Linked DNA regions of Homo sapiens: region 1 is linked to region 2. The links come from fine-mapping of genetic effects on gene expression. A gene starts in region 2. The other region holds a variant in brackets. All regions are shown on one strand. Distances are between the middles of the regions. Region 1 overlaps KDM2B (lysine demethylase 2B). Region 2 holds the start of KDM2B (lysine demethylase 2B).

Evidence for each region. PIP is the estimated chance that this variant, and not a neighbour inherited with it, causes the effect. A credible set is the group of variants that fine-mapping cannot tell apart.
Region 1: its variant is the best candidate, but not a certain one, in a credible set for the expression of KDM2B in fibroblasts (GTEx, PIP 0.67).

The regions. Positions count from the first base shown.
Region 1 is chr12:121,446,380-121,454,379 of GRCh38, forward strand. KDM2B (lysine demethylase 2B) reads right to left here. Exons shown (of 23, transcript NM_032590.5): 13 at 6,741-6,965. Among named protein-coding and RNA genes, the nearest start is that of MIR7107, 6.0 kb to the left of the region's middle. RefSeq lists enhancers at 2,198-2,698, 2,699-3,199, 5,731-6,545, 6,546-7,359. The variant A/ATC (reference allele first, on the strand shown) is at 4,477.
Region 2 is chr12:121,577,093-121,585,543 of GRCh38, forward strand. KDM2B (lysine demethylase 2B) reads right to left here and starts at 3,931. Exons shown (of 23, transcript NM_032590.5): 1 at 3,694-3,931; 2 at 1,710-1,854. The coding sequence starts at 3,819. KDM2B-DT (KDM2B divergent transcript) reads left to right here and starts at 3,419. Exons shown (of 4, transcript NR_183427.1): 1 at 3,419-4,171. RefSeq lists enhancers at 1-299, 3,221-4,156, 5,092-6,027, 6,028-6,961 and silencers at 1,973-2,052, 3,212-3,521, 3,602-3,651.

The DNA.
Region 1 (8,000 bases), 130 kb before region 2:
AGAGCGAGACTCCGTCAAAAAAAAGATCACCAGTTTCATCTAAGAATATCTCTGATGAAACAGTAAAAATTACTTTATGAAAACCTTACCCTAGAGTACACATCCTTTTCATGTGCTTTGTGACAATAAGAAGTATGCGTAAAGTGCCTCGGCACACAGGTGACGCGTACCAAAGGAAAAGCACTCGTGACTGAGCTGGGAGGTGAAATGGCCACTTTCTCCACAGATTATTTTTACTTGAAGGAATGACTGATAGAAACCCCCTGGACACTGGTGTATTTTTGTGAAGATCAAAGAAGTGAGCTTGTCATTTCCAGAAAAATAACTGACAGCATTTGTTGCAAATGACAAAATTCAAGTTTCTGAATGAAAATTAGACTTTTGGAAAACTTTTATGAACCACCATAACCCGCACAGCTTCCCAATACTGAGAGACTTTTCCAATGAGATCAGTAATCATATTAACAAACGTGATTTCTAAAATAATATTATGTGCCAATATTTGGAAAATCCGCCTAACTCAGGGAGCCAATATTTTCCAGATGACCAATACATGGTGTTACAACATCATGCCTGAGCAAATGAGCTACTCAAAGGTCAAGACAGGCTAATGATTTTCAATGTAACAGTGTGAACAGCTCATTGATACAGTTTCAGACTCCACATTGCAACTAAACTTTAAAAAAAACTGTTGAGTTCTAGTTGAGTATCAGAGTATCCACAGTTATCAAAAAGGCTATTAAAATACTCCTCCCTTTTCCAAGTAGTATATATCTGTGTGAGGCAAAATTTTCCTCATACTCCCTCCAAAACAACATATCACAATAGACAAAACACAGAAGCAGATATGAAAATTCCAGGTCTTCTCTTTTTTTTTTTTATTTTTTGAGATGGAGTCTTGCTCTGTCACCCAGGCTGGAGTGCAGTGGCACGGTCTCGACTCACTGCAACCTCTGCCTCCTGGGTTCAAGCGATTCTCCTGCCTCAGCCTCCCGAGTAGCACAGGTGCCCGCCACCACGCCCAGCTAATTTTTTATATTTGTAGTAGAGATGCGGGGTTTCACCATGTTGGTCAGGCTGGTCTCGGACTCCTGACCTCATGATCCACCCACATCGGCCTCCCAAAGTGCCAGGATTACAGGCGTAAACCACCGCACCCGGCAATTCCAAGTCCTTTCTAATGAATCAGACATAACAGAGATTTACAAAAATATAAAACAACGCCATTCTTCTTATTTTTCTTTTGGAAAATGTAATTATTTCTCATAAAAATATGTTATTTCTTTTTTCTTATTTATTGTTGAGACGGTGTCTTGCTCTGTTGCCCAGTCTGGAGTGCAGTGACATGATCTCGGCTCACTGCAACCTCTGTCTGCCTCCTGGGTTCAAGCGATTCTCCCACCTCAGCCTCCCGAGTAGCTGGGACTACAGGCGTGCTGGGTAATTTTTGTATTTTTAGTAGAGATGGGGTTTCACCATGTTGGCCAGGCTTGTCTCAAACTCCTGACCTCGAGTGATCCTCCCACCTTAGCCTCCCAAAGTGTTGTGATTGCAGGCATTAGCCACCGCGCCCGGCCAAAATATGTTATTTCTATTAACACGTCATGGGTTTTCTTGTTATTTTAAGATAAATTTAAAATCTAAAAAAAAATTTCTTGGCCAGGAGTGATAGCACATGCCTGCAATCCCAGCACTTTGGGAGGCCAAGGCAGGCGGATTGCCTGAGCCCAGGAGTTTGAGACTAGCCTGGGCAACGTGGCAAAACCCTGTCTTTACAAAAAAATACAAAAATTAGTTGAGTGTAGTGGTGAATGCCTGTAGTCCCAGCTGCTCGGGAGACTGAGGTGGGAGGACTGCTTGAGCCCAGGAGGTAGAGGCTGCAGTGAGCCACGAGCACACCACTGCACTCCAGCCTGAGCGACACAGCAAGACTCTGTCTCAAAAAAAAAAAAAAAAAAAAAAAAAATCAGTTTTAATTTTTTTTTTTAGCTAAAGTCCTCTCACATCAAACTCAGTTTAAATTTCTAATACGGTCAATATTAATAAATATATAGCCTACATAAAAGAAAAGCTCTTTAGGGTCCTCATAATTTTGAAGAGCATGAAGGGGTCCCTGAGACCACGAAGTGTGAGAACTTGATGCACCCGGCTGTGAGCCCCCTGAGGCCAGGGCAGGTCAGCCTCATCCCGCCCAGTGCACCTGCAGACAGAGGAAGCACGCAGCCAACCTTTATTATGCTGCTCAGAGGAGCTTCAAGCAGGCTGGGATATACACGCCATTGGTAAGTGAAAAAGACTTGATTAAATGGCGCAAATGTTTGAATTCTAATAAACAGGACACAGAAGGCAAGGCAGTCATCGTTCCTTCCACAAATACCAAACACACATCTGCCACGGCCTGAAACAAGGTCCTGGGGCCACAGGAGCGAGGGAGATGGCTGCTCCCCATGAGCTATTTGGGAAGACAAAGACATTAAGTCGCTGAAATCCAAAGAAAACATGGAAAAATCATGTTCAAGAGTTCTCAGAAGCAGCAGAGGCTGATTTCTGGAGGACTTGGAGGACAGGGTGGAGAGAAGCCAAGTGGGCAAGGCCGCGGGGCCTCAAGGTGAATGAGGACAGAGCAGGCCAGGCCAAAGGGGACGTCTGGGGACCAGACTGCAGCGGGGGGCACAGGGTGAAGCACGGCCCACACGGCAAGAAGAGGGTCTGTGGTGGGGTGGGGCAGATGGCAGAACGGGCTCTGAGCCAGGTGGCAGGATGGGAGGCGGTGCCAGAGGCAAATCTCCTGCAGGGGCTGGCAGGGGGCTTGGGGCGCATGTGGGGGGGCAGACTGCAGGACACCAGCATGACATCGGCATGACACTGGCAGGGACATGGTGGAGAGGGGAGGCTACGGAGGCAGCCCCAGCGACGGAGCAAAGGGAGGGTCCAGAAAAGGAAGATAGGTGGGGCTGCGTATGTCACAGGTGGGTAACACGTGAGAAGTGCCCTGGCAGAGCAGAAGGGCTAGGAGAAGAGTAAGAAGGACCCCAAGGGTCAGGCCAAGCCTGCATCTGCCATCAGTTCCAGAAGCCACGTCAAGCTGAAGAGAGTAGGAGACGTAGAAAAATGGGGTTTCCTTCAACCAGCATGCGCTGTGCCAGGCACCAGAGCTGCAAAGATAAGATGGCACCCGAGACAGGTTTCCTATAACTGGGCCCAGCACACGGGGGCTGGGAGATAATAATGCCAAAGAGAAAAAGACAGTCGCGGGTTCATTACTGGCACACATTGGGTTTTAGGTGACACCGTTCTAAAAACCAACAGTTGCTATAGACAAGCTCTTTTAAATTCTATAGGATCCAATGGGTCACATGGACCCAGTCTCCAAAAAATGCACATCCATGCATGCACATAGACAAAAATGCATTTAATTTCAGGATGGCTCACAAATTCCCCGAAATCCATGGAAATGTCCTGGGGTTCGGGTACCAATTAAAAGCACAAGCAGTGGAACTGAACTTCTGCAGCAAAAGAAAGAACTGACAGAGTGAAAAGGCAATCTACAGGATGGAAGAAAATCCTTGCTAACCAGAGACCTGATAAGGGTTAATATCCAAAACATATCTAGAACTCCTCTAACTCAGCAACAAAAACCCCCAAAAGAAAGCCGATCTAGGCCAGATGCACTGTAATCCCAGCACTTTGGGAGGCCAAGGCGGGAGGGTGATCACCTGAGGTCAGGGGTTTGAGACCAGCCTAGACAATAGAGTGAAACCCTGCCTCTACCAAAAATACAAAAATTAGCTGGGTGTGGAGGTATGTGCCTGTAACTCCAGCTACTTGGGAGGCTGAGGTAGGATAATTTCTTGAACCCAGGAGGCAGAAGTTGCAGTGAGCCGAGACTGCGCCACTGCACTCCAGCCTGGGCAAAAGAATGAGACTCTGTCTCAAAAAAAAAAAAGAAAGAAAAAAAAGAAAAGAAAAAAGTAAATCAGTTTAAAAACGGGCTAAGGACTCAGACATTTCTCCAAAGAAGACAGACAAACAGCCAATAAGCACTTGAGAAGATGCTCAACATCACTAAGAATTAGGGAAAAGTAAATCAAAACTACAGTGAGACGTCACCTCATACAAATTAGGATGGCCACTAAAAACAAACTGAAAGCCCATAACATAACAGATGTTGGTGGGGACACAGAGAAACAGGAACCTTCATCGGGTGCGGTGGCTCACGCCTGTAATCCCAGCACTTTGGGAGGCCGAGGCGGGTGGATCACGAGGTCAGGAGATCCAGACCATCCTAGCCAACATGGTGAAACCCCGTCTCTACTAAAAATGCAAAAAAATTAGCCAGGCGTGGTGGCGGGCACTGGTAGTCCCAGCTACTCTGGAGGCTGAGGCAGGAAAAATGGCATGAACCCAGGAGGTGGAGCTTGCAGTGAGCCGAGATCGTGCCACTGCACTCCAGCCTGGGTGACAGAGCAAGACTCC[A/ATC]TCAAAAAAAAAAAAGAGGAAGAAACAGGAACTTTCATGCACCCGTGGTGGGAATGTAAAACGGGATGGCCGCGGTGGCCAACAGTACAGAGGTTCCTCAAAAAGTTAAAAATAGAATCGTCATATGACCCAGCAAGCCCACTTCTGGGCATGGAGTTGACCCTTACACAGCACAGGATTGAACTGTGTGGGTCCGCTTATATGCCGATTTTTTTTCAACAAAAGTTATACTGAGTGTGCCTGCGTCTCCTGCCCCCCCCTTCTACCTCCTCCATCTCTTCTGCCTCTGCCACCTCTGAGACAGCAAGACCAACCCCTCCTCCTCTGCCTACACAATGTGAAGATGATGAGCATGAAGACCTTTATGATGATCCACTTCCACTTAATGAATGATAAATATATTTTCCTTATGATCTTCTTAATATTTTCTTTTCTCTAGCTTATTTTATTGTGAGAATACAGTATATAATACATATAAGATATGTGTTAATGGACTGTTTTTGTTACTGGTAAGGCTTCTGGTCAACAATAGGGCTAACAGTAGTTAAGTTTTAGGGGAGTCAAAAGTTACATGCAGATTTTCAACTGCACAGAGGTCAGATGGTGCCCCAACCCTTGTGTTGTTCAAGGGTCAATTGTATATCCAGAAGAATTCAAAACATGATCTCAAAGAGATATCTGCACACCCATATTCACTGCAGCACTATTCACAACAGGCAAGAGGTGAAAGCAATCCATATGTCCATCAACAGATGAATGGATAAAGAAAAGTTGAGCCAGGCGTGGTGGCTCACGCCTGTAATCCCAGCACTCTTGGAGGCCGAGGTGGGTAGATCACTTGAGGTCAGGAGTTCGAGACCAGCCTGGCCAACATGATGAAGCCCCGTCTGTACTAAAAATATAAAAATTAGCCAGATGTGGTGGCAGGTGCCTGTAATCCCAGCTACTCAGGAGACTGAGGCAGGAGAATCGCTTGAACCCAGGAGGCAGGGGTTGTTGTAAGCCAAGATTCCACTGCTGCACTCCAGCCTGGGCAACAGAGCAAGACTCCATCTCAGAAAAAAAAAAGAAAATTTGGTACAAATACACTTTCAGTATTAATCGGCCATAAAAAAAAAGGAAATTGTCATATGCTTCAACATGGATGAACCCTGAGGACTTTATGCTCAGGGCTATAAACAAGCCAATCCAATCACAGAAAGCCAATTACTGCATAATTCCACTTCTATGAGGTCCCGAGAGGAGTCAAGCTCTTAGAAACTGAAAGTGGAATGGTGGTTGCCCGGGCTGAGGGAGGGGAAAGGGGAGTAGAGCTTCAGTGGGTATGGAGTTTCAGTTTTGCAAAATGAAAAAGTTCTAGGGATCAGCTTCCCAAAAACGTGCATATGGTAATACTACTGTACTGCATACTTAAAAATGATTAATGTATTTTTTTTACCACAATTTCAAAAAACAAAACACAAGAAATATGCGTGGAAGGAGATGGCTGAGGTGTCTGGGCCTGCGGGGCATCGACAGCCAAGGAGGAAGGGCTCACCCTATGCCAGGCTGGGCCTGCAGATGAGCGCACCAGGGCCGAGGAATCCCGTCCCTCCAGCCGAGCCTGCTTTTCCACGGGGACTGGGAGATGACTCCTCCACAGGGAGGACCGCCGGCCCCCGGGGAGCAGCGCCCTGAGGAAGGCAGAGCATGTGGGTGTGTACAAGGGAATTCAAGGGCAAACCCCGCGACCTCGCCCCGTTGCGAAGTCCATGTCCACTGCCCTGTCTGGGGACGAGACCAGCGGCGCGGGGCCACTGCCGGAGCTGAGGCCAGGCGGTGTGGAGGGGCGGGCCAGGCTCTCCCGGGCGCGGCTCCTCAGTACCATAAATCACTCCTTGTTGGGGGCAGCCCCCTGAGATGGGGCGCTGACCTTCCACCCAGACTTCTGACTCTGAAGGCAGGGCCGGAAGGAAGGAAGGAAGGGCCCAGAACCGTCACCCAGAACCGTAATGTTGGCAACGGGGTCACAGACAGGACAGGCTGCCTGTCATCTTTAATGGCAGCAACTTCAAAGTACCTGAGCACCCTGGGAGGGAAGGAGCAGGAGGCCTGAGCCTGCGAAGCGGCCAGCGCCTTCCCGTCCACAGGAAGAGCTCTCGGGGAGTCCACAGCCCCGGCTTCTCTGTGTGCGGAGGGGCGGCCAGAGCGAGCAGCGGTCAGACACGCGGGCCGGCACGCAGGGGCCTGAATCGAGCGCAGGGCTGGGCGGGGGCCGCACTCACCGCGATGCACTGCCGCATGATGCAGCTCTGCTTCATGCGCCCGGGGCCCCCGAACTTCTTCATGTCCTTGCAGAAGTGGCACTCTCCGCACTCGGTCCGCAGGCAGGCCTCGCACTTGCGGCATCGCGTCCGGCGCCGCCGAGCTCCTGCCGTTGTCCGGTTGGCGGCCAACTTCACCGCGGAGGCCGGGCCCAGCTTCCCCTTGGGCCGACCCACAGCCCGGTTCTGCAGGGGAACAGACACGACTGGTCAGATGGGGAGACTGCAGGCACGGCCAGACCCCCGGAAAGGGTGTTAGGGAGCAAACTGTGTACCCCCAGAAAGACACGATGGGGGCTCTAAACCCCATTCCTCAGAGTGTGATCTTTATTTGGAGATGGGGGCTTTGCAGAGACCGTCAGGTTAAACGAGGTAATTCAGGTGAACGCTAATCCAGTATGACTGGTGTCCTTACGAAAGGGGAACTTTTGGACACAGAGACAGACACGCACGTAGAGAACGTGTGTGAAGACACAGGCCTTCCACAGACTGGAGCCCTGTCTACAAGCCAAGAAGTGCCAAGGATGGCAGCACATACCAGGAGCTGGAGGCGCGGGGAAGGACCCTCCCCTAGAGCCCGCAGAGCCAGCCCGGCCCGCCAGCCCACACCTTGACTTCAGACTCCTGGCCTCCAGAACCGGGAGAGAAGAAAGGCCGGTTGTTTTAAGCCACCCGTTATGGCAGCCCTAGGAGAGGACGACAGAGGGCGCGTGCTTCTTGCCGCAGCACACAGCTCGAGACCTTCCATGGCTGCACCCACAGGCTCGGACCCTGCCCACCTTTCCCACCTCCGTCTGCTCCCCAAGAAAGACCGCAAGGGGCCACACAATCGGTCTCTGTTCCCCCAGCCCGGAAGGCCAACCCCACCCCCGCCCAAGCCACTTGGCTGATGCCCACTCATTCCGTCTGGTCAGTTTACAGGCTGCTTTCTTCTGGAAGCCCCTACTGCCCACCTGCACTGGGTTCAGGGCCCCTCTGGGAGATCCTGTTAGAGCGCTCATGATGGTAATCATCTGTTCCTTCCCTTTGAGACGGGGCACAGGAGGGCACTCACCACAGGTGTCTTGTGCACCACTGCACCTCTCTACGAGCCAGCCTGGCATGCAGAATGCACTCAACAAACCAGAGCCACCCCAGGGAGGATGGGATAGTAACCTTTAGGTCCCTGACTACTCAGATCTTCCCTAGATGGGCTCCAAATGCTCCCTTCCCTGGGACTCA
Region 2 (8,451 bases):
TGGGGCCAGATCTGAATTAAAGAGCAAAGCCCTGGGCCCTCCCCTTTGAAAGAAGCCGGGAGAGCAGATCTAAGGATACACTTTAGCTCTCCCTGGCTGGAATACCGGCCCTCTAGACCCACCCACCCTAGGCACCCCATCCCCCAGGGTCAGCTTCAACTTCCTCAAATCAGCCTGAGAAAAAGCTCTGAAATCCTGGGCTGAGAATTCCTCCCAAATGACTAGGAAGAGTTTGCATATTGTTTGCACATAGGATCCACCAAATGACTCAACTCAGTAAAAATGGGGGAAGAAAGGAGAGGAATTAAAATTCCACTTATGTAGAGAAAATTTAAATCAGCTGGGACTAGCACCCTGCTCTAGGACCAGGCAGGCTGGGAGAAATTTATTCTTCCCTCCCCCAACAAACACCCCTCACCACCGGAGCCCAGCGCTCCAGGAGGCAATGGGCACAAAAGAGAAATCGCAAAACTGCAAAGCTGGGAGTCTCTTCTCAGAGCTAACCCCACAGCCACAGCCACTCAACCAGAACCTGGAGGAGGGAAGGAGGCACTCCAGGTTATCAGCTCACTGAGGGATGGAAGGGTTTTCCAAGGGGCGTGGGGGGAACAAAATAGAAACTTTGTAACTTAAAGGAAATTGAAATATCTGAAAGGGAAAAGGAGTGAAGGGCCTGGGAAGGCTAGGTAGGGCATGTTCAAAACCCCAATCCCGCAGGCAATACTAGGTTCCTCAACCAGGAGCCACACTGGCTGCAGGCTGGGAAGGCCAGGGCTCTGGAGGCCTCAGAGGCAACCCAGGGCGTCACCTTAACATCTGGAGGGTGACCCCCACCACCCTCCTAGTAGGAGAGCCAGGGAGAAACTCAGGCCGTGAAGGTCTCCAAAACCCTGGAGGCGTCCCCAGATTCCGCTCTCAATTGGGTGGGCCCACAAGGAACAGAGCTCTCCAAGTCTCAGGCCTGGGAGGAGACCCATTTCCTCACTTCAAACTGCCAGGGGACAGGGATCTCCCCCAGAAGCCTGAAGGGAAGTCACCCCCTGACCCCAATTCTTGGCTTCAACCTATCAAGGCTGTAGCGCTAGACAGCTCCGGCCCAGGTAGGGGTTCAGGTCAACAGCTTCAGGGCTCATGGGGTCCCTGATCCAATCTGGCAGAGCCCATGGGGGAATGCGGCTCTGCGGACCCCAGGCCTAAGGGGGCATCGTCCCAAACACCCGACGCGCCCCCATCACCAGTTCCTCACTGGCAGGCCCCAAGCGGGAACGGGATTGGGAAGGCTTCGGGCCTGGGGGGCCTTACCCCGATGCCCCAGGGGCGCCCTGAACCCAGTTCCAGCCAGGCGGCGGCACCTCAGGCAGCGCAGGGAGCGCGACCGGCTCGGGGAGGGGGAGGACGCGGCGCTCCCGCCCTCCCTCGGTCCGCCTGTCCATCTCCAGGTCCCTCTGTCCGCCGGCCCCCTGGCTCTGCCCACCCTGGGGCTGGTGGTGGGCGCGGGCCGGGCCTAGGCCCATGCCCGGCCCCCCTTACTGCCTGCCCTCCTCCCTCACCACCCCACCCCACCCCCCCAGTGCTCGGCCTCGTTTCGTCACCGGATCCCCTGGAATGGGGGACGCGGGCGCGAAATACGAACCCAGCCACCGGCAGCTCCCTCCCCACGTGCGCTCGGCCCGCAGCGCAGAGGGCGGCCCGGGGTGGGGGCGCCTCACCTTTGCCCTCCATGGCGTGCACGAAGTCCCCCTGGTACAGCTGGCTGCGAAGCTTCTCCTCCAGGCTGAAGCCGCGGACGCTGACGATCTCCTCCACGTCCGACAAGTCCTCGTTCTCGTCGTATCGCTGGCGGTCAATCGGGCGCTGCGAGGACCCAAACCAGAGAGCCCGGGACATTATTGTGGGGGCTGGAGGTCGCCTCTCAACCTGGGCCCAGCACTAACAGGTGCAGCAGCCGAGCGCCCCCTGCACCCCACCATTGCAACCCAAGCAACTTTGCGCAATTGCCAAAGATGCTGAAAAGCAGGACAAGGAGAGGGGCCCGCACCCCGAGGGTCCAGCTGCGCTCTACGCGGGGTACTCCCCTCCGGTGTCTTCGGAAGCACTGAAGGGACATCTGGGGACCCTCCCCTGCCCCCCGCCCCCGAAATGTGCTGGGCTTCGCCCACTCGGCCGGGAGCCTGGTTATGTAACCCGCGAAGGGGGCTCCGGACACGGGCTGGCGGGGCAAATGTAGGCCCCAGGAGGAGCCGCTGCGGCGCCCGGCTCGGCGGTAACAGCAGCCCCAGCGGCCGCGGCGGCAGAGCCGGGAAGCCGGAACCGGGGGCCGGCGGCATTTCTAAAGCTGGAGCCGCCCCCGAGCTACCGGGGAAGCTGGAAAGCTGAAATGGAAGGGCTGAGACCCCAGCCGCCCCCGCCGCCCGCCCGCCAGTGCAAGAAGAGGAGGTGGGGGGAGGAGAATCGGGGCTTGGAAGGGGGAGAGGCAGACGGCCCGCCACAAAGCTCGGATCGGAGACCCCAAAACGCACCAGCAGCTGCCTCATCTCCCCACAAGCGCGCGCGCACACTCACTTCCTAAGGAGACTCCCCCACCACTCCCCGCATCCCCCTGCCTCCTCCCTCCACCGCCCAGCGCCCGGCCCCTCAGCCCCCCAGATTCCGGGCGAACCCCGAGCCCGCTCAGCCCCCCTCCACGCCTTTCCCCGATACCACCTCCCCACTTAAGTGTCTGAGACTCTAAGCCTCACAAGGGGCTGGAGGAGTAAGCAGCTTGCTTCCTTTTGCATGCAATTTATTATATTTTTTTCCCGGTCCTCTTGCAAAATACAGAAAAGGAAAGAAAAGGCAGCGAGAAACAACCAAAAAAAAAAAAAAAAAGATCTATCATATGCCAGATACAGATTTGGAAAAAAAAAAAAAAAAAAAAAGCTACACACCAATCTTCTTCCAGAGTCTTTCTCTGCCTCCATTTTTTTAGGAGAGTTCACCAATTAATTGTCAACACTCCTGCCCCCTGCATTTTGGCCGAGGGGGGAAGGAGGGAAGACCAAAGAAAACAAACCAAAAAATAAATAAATAAAGCAAGCCAGAGCCGAGATCTACAAAGTTTTGCACCAACACTTAGGCAGATCCGTTTGCAAAGTCCTAGGAAACCATTTTCAGCAGTTGTGGGGGGGGGGAGGCGTCGACGTCATAATCCCCGGAACGTAAACATTGTTGCCGATCGCGCTCGGAGCCCGCGGCCGGGCTATTTGGGGGGGCTCTCGGCCCGGGCTTGGGGGGGTGGGGGCGGCGGCCCGAGGAGGTATGGGGCGGGGAGGGAGCCCGGGAGGCACCGGGCGCCGTTAGCGCCGTGGCATCGCTGTTTTGTTGTTGGGTCACGAGTGCGCCTCTGCACGCAGGCGCCGCCGCCGCCCGGGAGTTGTGTGCAGAGCTGACTTTTGGAGGGCCGAGTTGCAGGCGGCGGGCGCATCCCGGAGATGGCGGGGCAGGGAGGGAGGGAAGGAGGAGGGGGCGGGGAGGGAGGTGCAGATTTGCACGGCTGGCCTCAGCGGGAGGCGCGGAAATGCAAGCCGAGCATGCTGGCGTGAAAGCCCCCGGGGCCTGGCACCCCCAAAAACGACCCCCCACCTCCGTTCCTGCCCTCATTGCCCAGGGCTACCCCTCTTCCTCTTCTTTCATCCACCCCTCCCCCAACATTACCTGTGTGGCCGACTCAAATTCAAAGCATTTTGTATATATAACTGTTTTCTTTTTTTGCTTTTCTGCTGCATGTCTTTTTCGTGGGGGGTGATCCTCTGCAGATCCCCCCATTTGCGGACCCGCCATGTGGAGGAGGCATTTGGGGGGCTCAGAAGGAAATTAGCTCGGCTTCCATACCTATAAGGACTGCCTAACTTTTAAACTCCCGGCACTCAAAGATGTGGACACACACACGTACAGGAAATACAGCCAGACCAGAGCCTTTGCAGTCCGCAGCTGACCGGAAGACGTTGCCTTTCATTCATTCATTCTGCCCGCCTCTGTGGACTCCTTTACTAGGCGACCAGCCCTGAAACAGAAGTTGGACATTTTTTAAAGGTTCTTGCGCTCGGCAAGGGGAGCAGATAGATGCTCAGGAGCGAAAGACGCAGAGAATTGGATCTGGCGCCTCCTAACGCAGCCCGCACAGGAGCGAAGGGTAAGCCCTTGTTGGTAGTTTATAGAAGACAAGTCGGTGGAAAGGTGCATGGTGCTCTGGGATAGGTGGGGGGAACTCTAGTGCCCTTGATGAAGCCCCTACAGGGCTTCTTAGCGGAGGTATCGGCACCCTCCGTACATACATGGGTGTCATTAGGTCCCTGTCCACTTACTAGTGTTTTTGACTACCCCAGCACTGGTCCTGGGTTGTCTTGTCCTCCCATCATGAGCAACAGTCAGGTCGACTTGGCTTGAGAAAAGCTAGCCCTAAACATTCCTCCAGCCCCAGCTGTGGCGCCCTGCTAGGCCTGATCTTGCGGGTAAAGATGCTGATAAAATGACATGGCAAGAGGGAGACGATAAAGGGACATTGTAGATAGCAGGCTTTGAGCCTGACATTTTATTTCTGCCATAACCCTGTGGGATACTTGGAGCAGGTCATTTTGCAGATAGGGAAACTGAAGCTCAGAGAAATTATGAATCTGAATGATTGCTGTGCTCCCATATGGTCCCCAGGCTATCAGACAGACCTGTGGGGAGGACGTGGCTTCCCCACCAGGAGATACGATGTCACTATCAGCATCGTATTGGCCGTCCTAAGAGACAGCTTCCCCCTCACTCACCTTAGAAGTTTCCTGTCCTATCTGACTGTAGTCTTTCCCACCCATCCTCAAAGGCTACTCTTTGAAGTTTGTTTTCATTCATGTTCACTAGCTGTAAAAATCTTTTAAGCAGGGATGAGGCTGGGAAACATCAAAATTTGTTTCCAAACTGAAATCGCCCACGTTGGCTGCTGCGTGCAATCAGTAGCCCTTCGTGTGAGTGCTGCCGGTTCTGCCTTCAGTCCGTCCAGAACCATGGACCATTTTATTTGTTCCTGTCTTTCTCACAAGAACCCTTTAAGGGAAATCGTCTTGTTCGTTCCCATTTTGCAAAGGAGGAAATTAGGACTAAGAAAAGCAAAGCCACTCACCCAGGATCACATAGCGCGTATGTGCCGCTGCCAGGGCTCACACTGGAGCCTGGCTTGGCCATCACGTGCTTTTTTTTTTTTTTTTTTTTTTTTTAGTAACTTACCAGCCTCACTACTGCCCCATAATGAAATAAACATGTTCAAAGGAGGCTGCATGGGCTGGAGAGTGACGCAAAGTGAATTAAGTGAAATAAAGCAAAAAATATATAATAGAATGCTTCATCTAATTAATTCTTTTTTCTCCCTGAGGCCCTTCTTTCTCTCCAAGTGGCCTCATAGTGGCCCCAAAAGCTGGCATCAGAAAAAGGTCCAATGGCAGCCACCTTAGTATAAAAACAGTTAAGTCCATCTATCACCTCCACGAGGAGTTCCTGGCCTGTCAGAGTGGGAAGGGGCTGGGTAGTCACCTCATTTAATCCCCCCCCTTTACAAACCTCGAGGAAACCGCAAACACGAGAAAAGAATGGGCCAGCCGGGGGTTTGTTCCCCTTGGCCTCCCCCAGAATGCCTGCCCTGCTGCCGGGTCCTAAGTGGCCACTCAATAAATGTTGGGCCCTTGATGAATCACCTTCCCCCTCGATATTTGCATTTTCTCTTTATCAGTAATTGGCAGATGAAAGGCTTTGTCCTCCAGTTGAAAGAATTCCAAGCATTTGCTCAAAGTGGGGGAGGAGGTTATTTTGGACCAAAGGGGGAAGGGCCAAGACCCTGGAGCTCCCAGTGTTGACTAATTGTCCCAGAGAAGTGGAGAGTAGGTAAGGGAAGAGAGAAGGTGAAGGTGCTTACCCCAGAGATGTACTTTTTCTTGCAGGAAAACACCGGGCCGGTTGTATTGGAAACATAATAATAATTATTTCCTGGACCCTCCTGCTCGATCTTACAAAGGGCCCAGTCAAATCCTGCCTGAGTTACCCCCATTCATTCTTCATTCATCAAAGGTTGATTGAGCAACTCTGTGCCCAAAGACAGAGAGGCTAGAGAAAAGAAGATGCAGCGTGGGGCATGCAGATTGGGGCATACTCGAGGCTGGGTAGGACGATGGACCTGCAGCTTCCCAAGGAAAGGGTGGACACTGGATGTAGCTCTCAGAAACCAGAATCTTGATAAGAAATTGAAGTTGTTCTCATATTCATATATGATTATCATAACTCCTGATTTTTCTTTTCTTTTTTTTGAGAGAGGGTCTTGCTCTGTTGCCCAGGCTGGAGTGCAGTGACACAATCTCAGCTCACTGCAACCTCCACCTCCTGGACTCAGCAATGCTCCACCTTAGCCTTCCAAGTAGCTGAGACTACAGGAGTGCACCACCATGCCCAGCTAATTTTTGTATTTTTGGTAGAGACAGGGTTTTGCCGTGTTGCCCAGGCTGGTCTCCAACTCCTAGGCTCAAGTGTTCCTCCCACCTCGGCCTCCCAAAGTGCTGAGATTACAGCCGTAAGCCACCACACCTGGCCCTGTTTTGTTTTAATTTAAGGATATCTAATCATTCCACATCAGCATATGTGGAATGCTATAGCACATCAGCTATAGTTTCCTTATTCTTTCTAATGATTTCATAGCATTTCATTGGGCAGATAAATGGTGCAAGAATGATTTAATTAGTTCCCTAACTTTTAGATGGTTTTCAATCTTTTTCTATTGCAAACAGAGCTATAAGGGATTGCAGCTTTGTGCTTGAGTCTGTCAGTAGAATATATATCTGAAAGTGATCATCCACGTCTCAGGATTCCTACCCTATCACCAACTATTTGTCCTTGAGAAGTTTATTTGTAAGATCTGAGCAGGTGGGACAACCTCATATCCAACTGGTATCCCCAGGAGTCTACGCAGTGCCATGCCCTTGGCAGGCACTCAGAGAGAGTGGTTTAAGGGCTAACACTGCAAGCATTCACACTGTAATCAGATGGCCTCTTCTAGGAAACCTTTGCTGATATCCTTGGCCCCCTTTCCCCATGGACCCTTCATTCATTCCACAAATGTTTGTGGAAGGTTGATTAGGGGGACCCTGTATCAAATCAGCCTCTTAGGTATATATAGCCTGGTAGGTGAGTTAAAACAAATTCTGGAAAGCACTCTAAGGCTGTGCTGTTTGATGGGATACATTAGCTACATACAGCTACTTAAATTTAATTAAAATAAAATGTAAAATTCAGCTCCTTAACCCAGTACCTACATTTGAAGGGGCTAGAAGTGACAGCACTGAATGGTGCAGATACAGAATATCCCTATCATTGGCTGGGCGCTGTGGGTCACACCTGTAATCCCAGCATTTTGGGATGCTGAGGCAGGTGGATCACCTGAGGTCAGGAGTTCAAGACCAGCCTGGCCAACAGGATGAAACCCCCGTCTCTATTAAAAATACAAAAATTGGACAAGCGTGGTGGTGCACACCTGTAATCCCAGCAACTCGGGAGGCTGAGGCAGGAGAATTGCTTGAACCCAGGAGGCAGAGTTTGCAATGAGCTGATTGCACCACTGCACTCAAGCCTGGGTGACAGAGGGGGATTCTGTCTCAAAAAAAAAAAAAGAATATCTTGAATAACTCTATCATCTTCTGTGGGACAGCCCTGAAGGGAGGCTTAGCATAGTGGGCAACCCTGTGGGCTCTGGATTCCTGTAAGCTCTGAGTTCGAATCCTATCATTATTTCCTAGCTATAAAATTTGGCCAAGCAAGTTAACCTGTCTTTGAGCCTCAGCCATAAAGGTGGGGAATTACAGCCCCTTATGGAGATTTGGCAAGGATTCAAAGGTACTGCAAATGTGAGGGGCTTTGCACAAAGTCATAGTAATATTATAAAAAATCTGGAGTGAAGCCAGGCGCAGTGGCTCATGCCTATAATCCCAGCAATTTGGGAGGCCAAGGCGGACAGATCACCTGTGCTCAGGAGTTCGAGACCAGCTTGGGCAACATGATAAAACCCTATCTCTACTAAAAATACAAAAATTAGCTGGGTGTGGTGGCGTGCGCCTGTAGTCCCAGCTACTCAGGAGGCTGAGGCACAAGAACCGCTTGAACCCAGGAGGCAGAGGTTGCAGTGAGCCAAGATCATTCACTGCACTCCAGCCTGGGTGACATCCCGAGACTCCGTCTCCAAACCAAAACGAAACTAAACAACATGCAGAATACTAATAATACTAAGTTGTGCGGACCATGTAAGGAAACCAAAAGGGTTATGTCTGTATCTACATGCTTTTTTTTTTTTTTTTTTTTTTGTGAGACAGAGTCTTGCTATAACACCCAGGCTGGAGTACAATGGCACAATCTCGGCTCACTGAAACCTCCGCCTCCCGGGTTCAAGCAATTCTC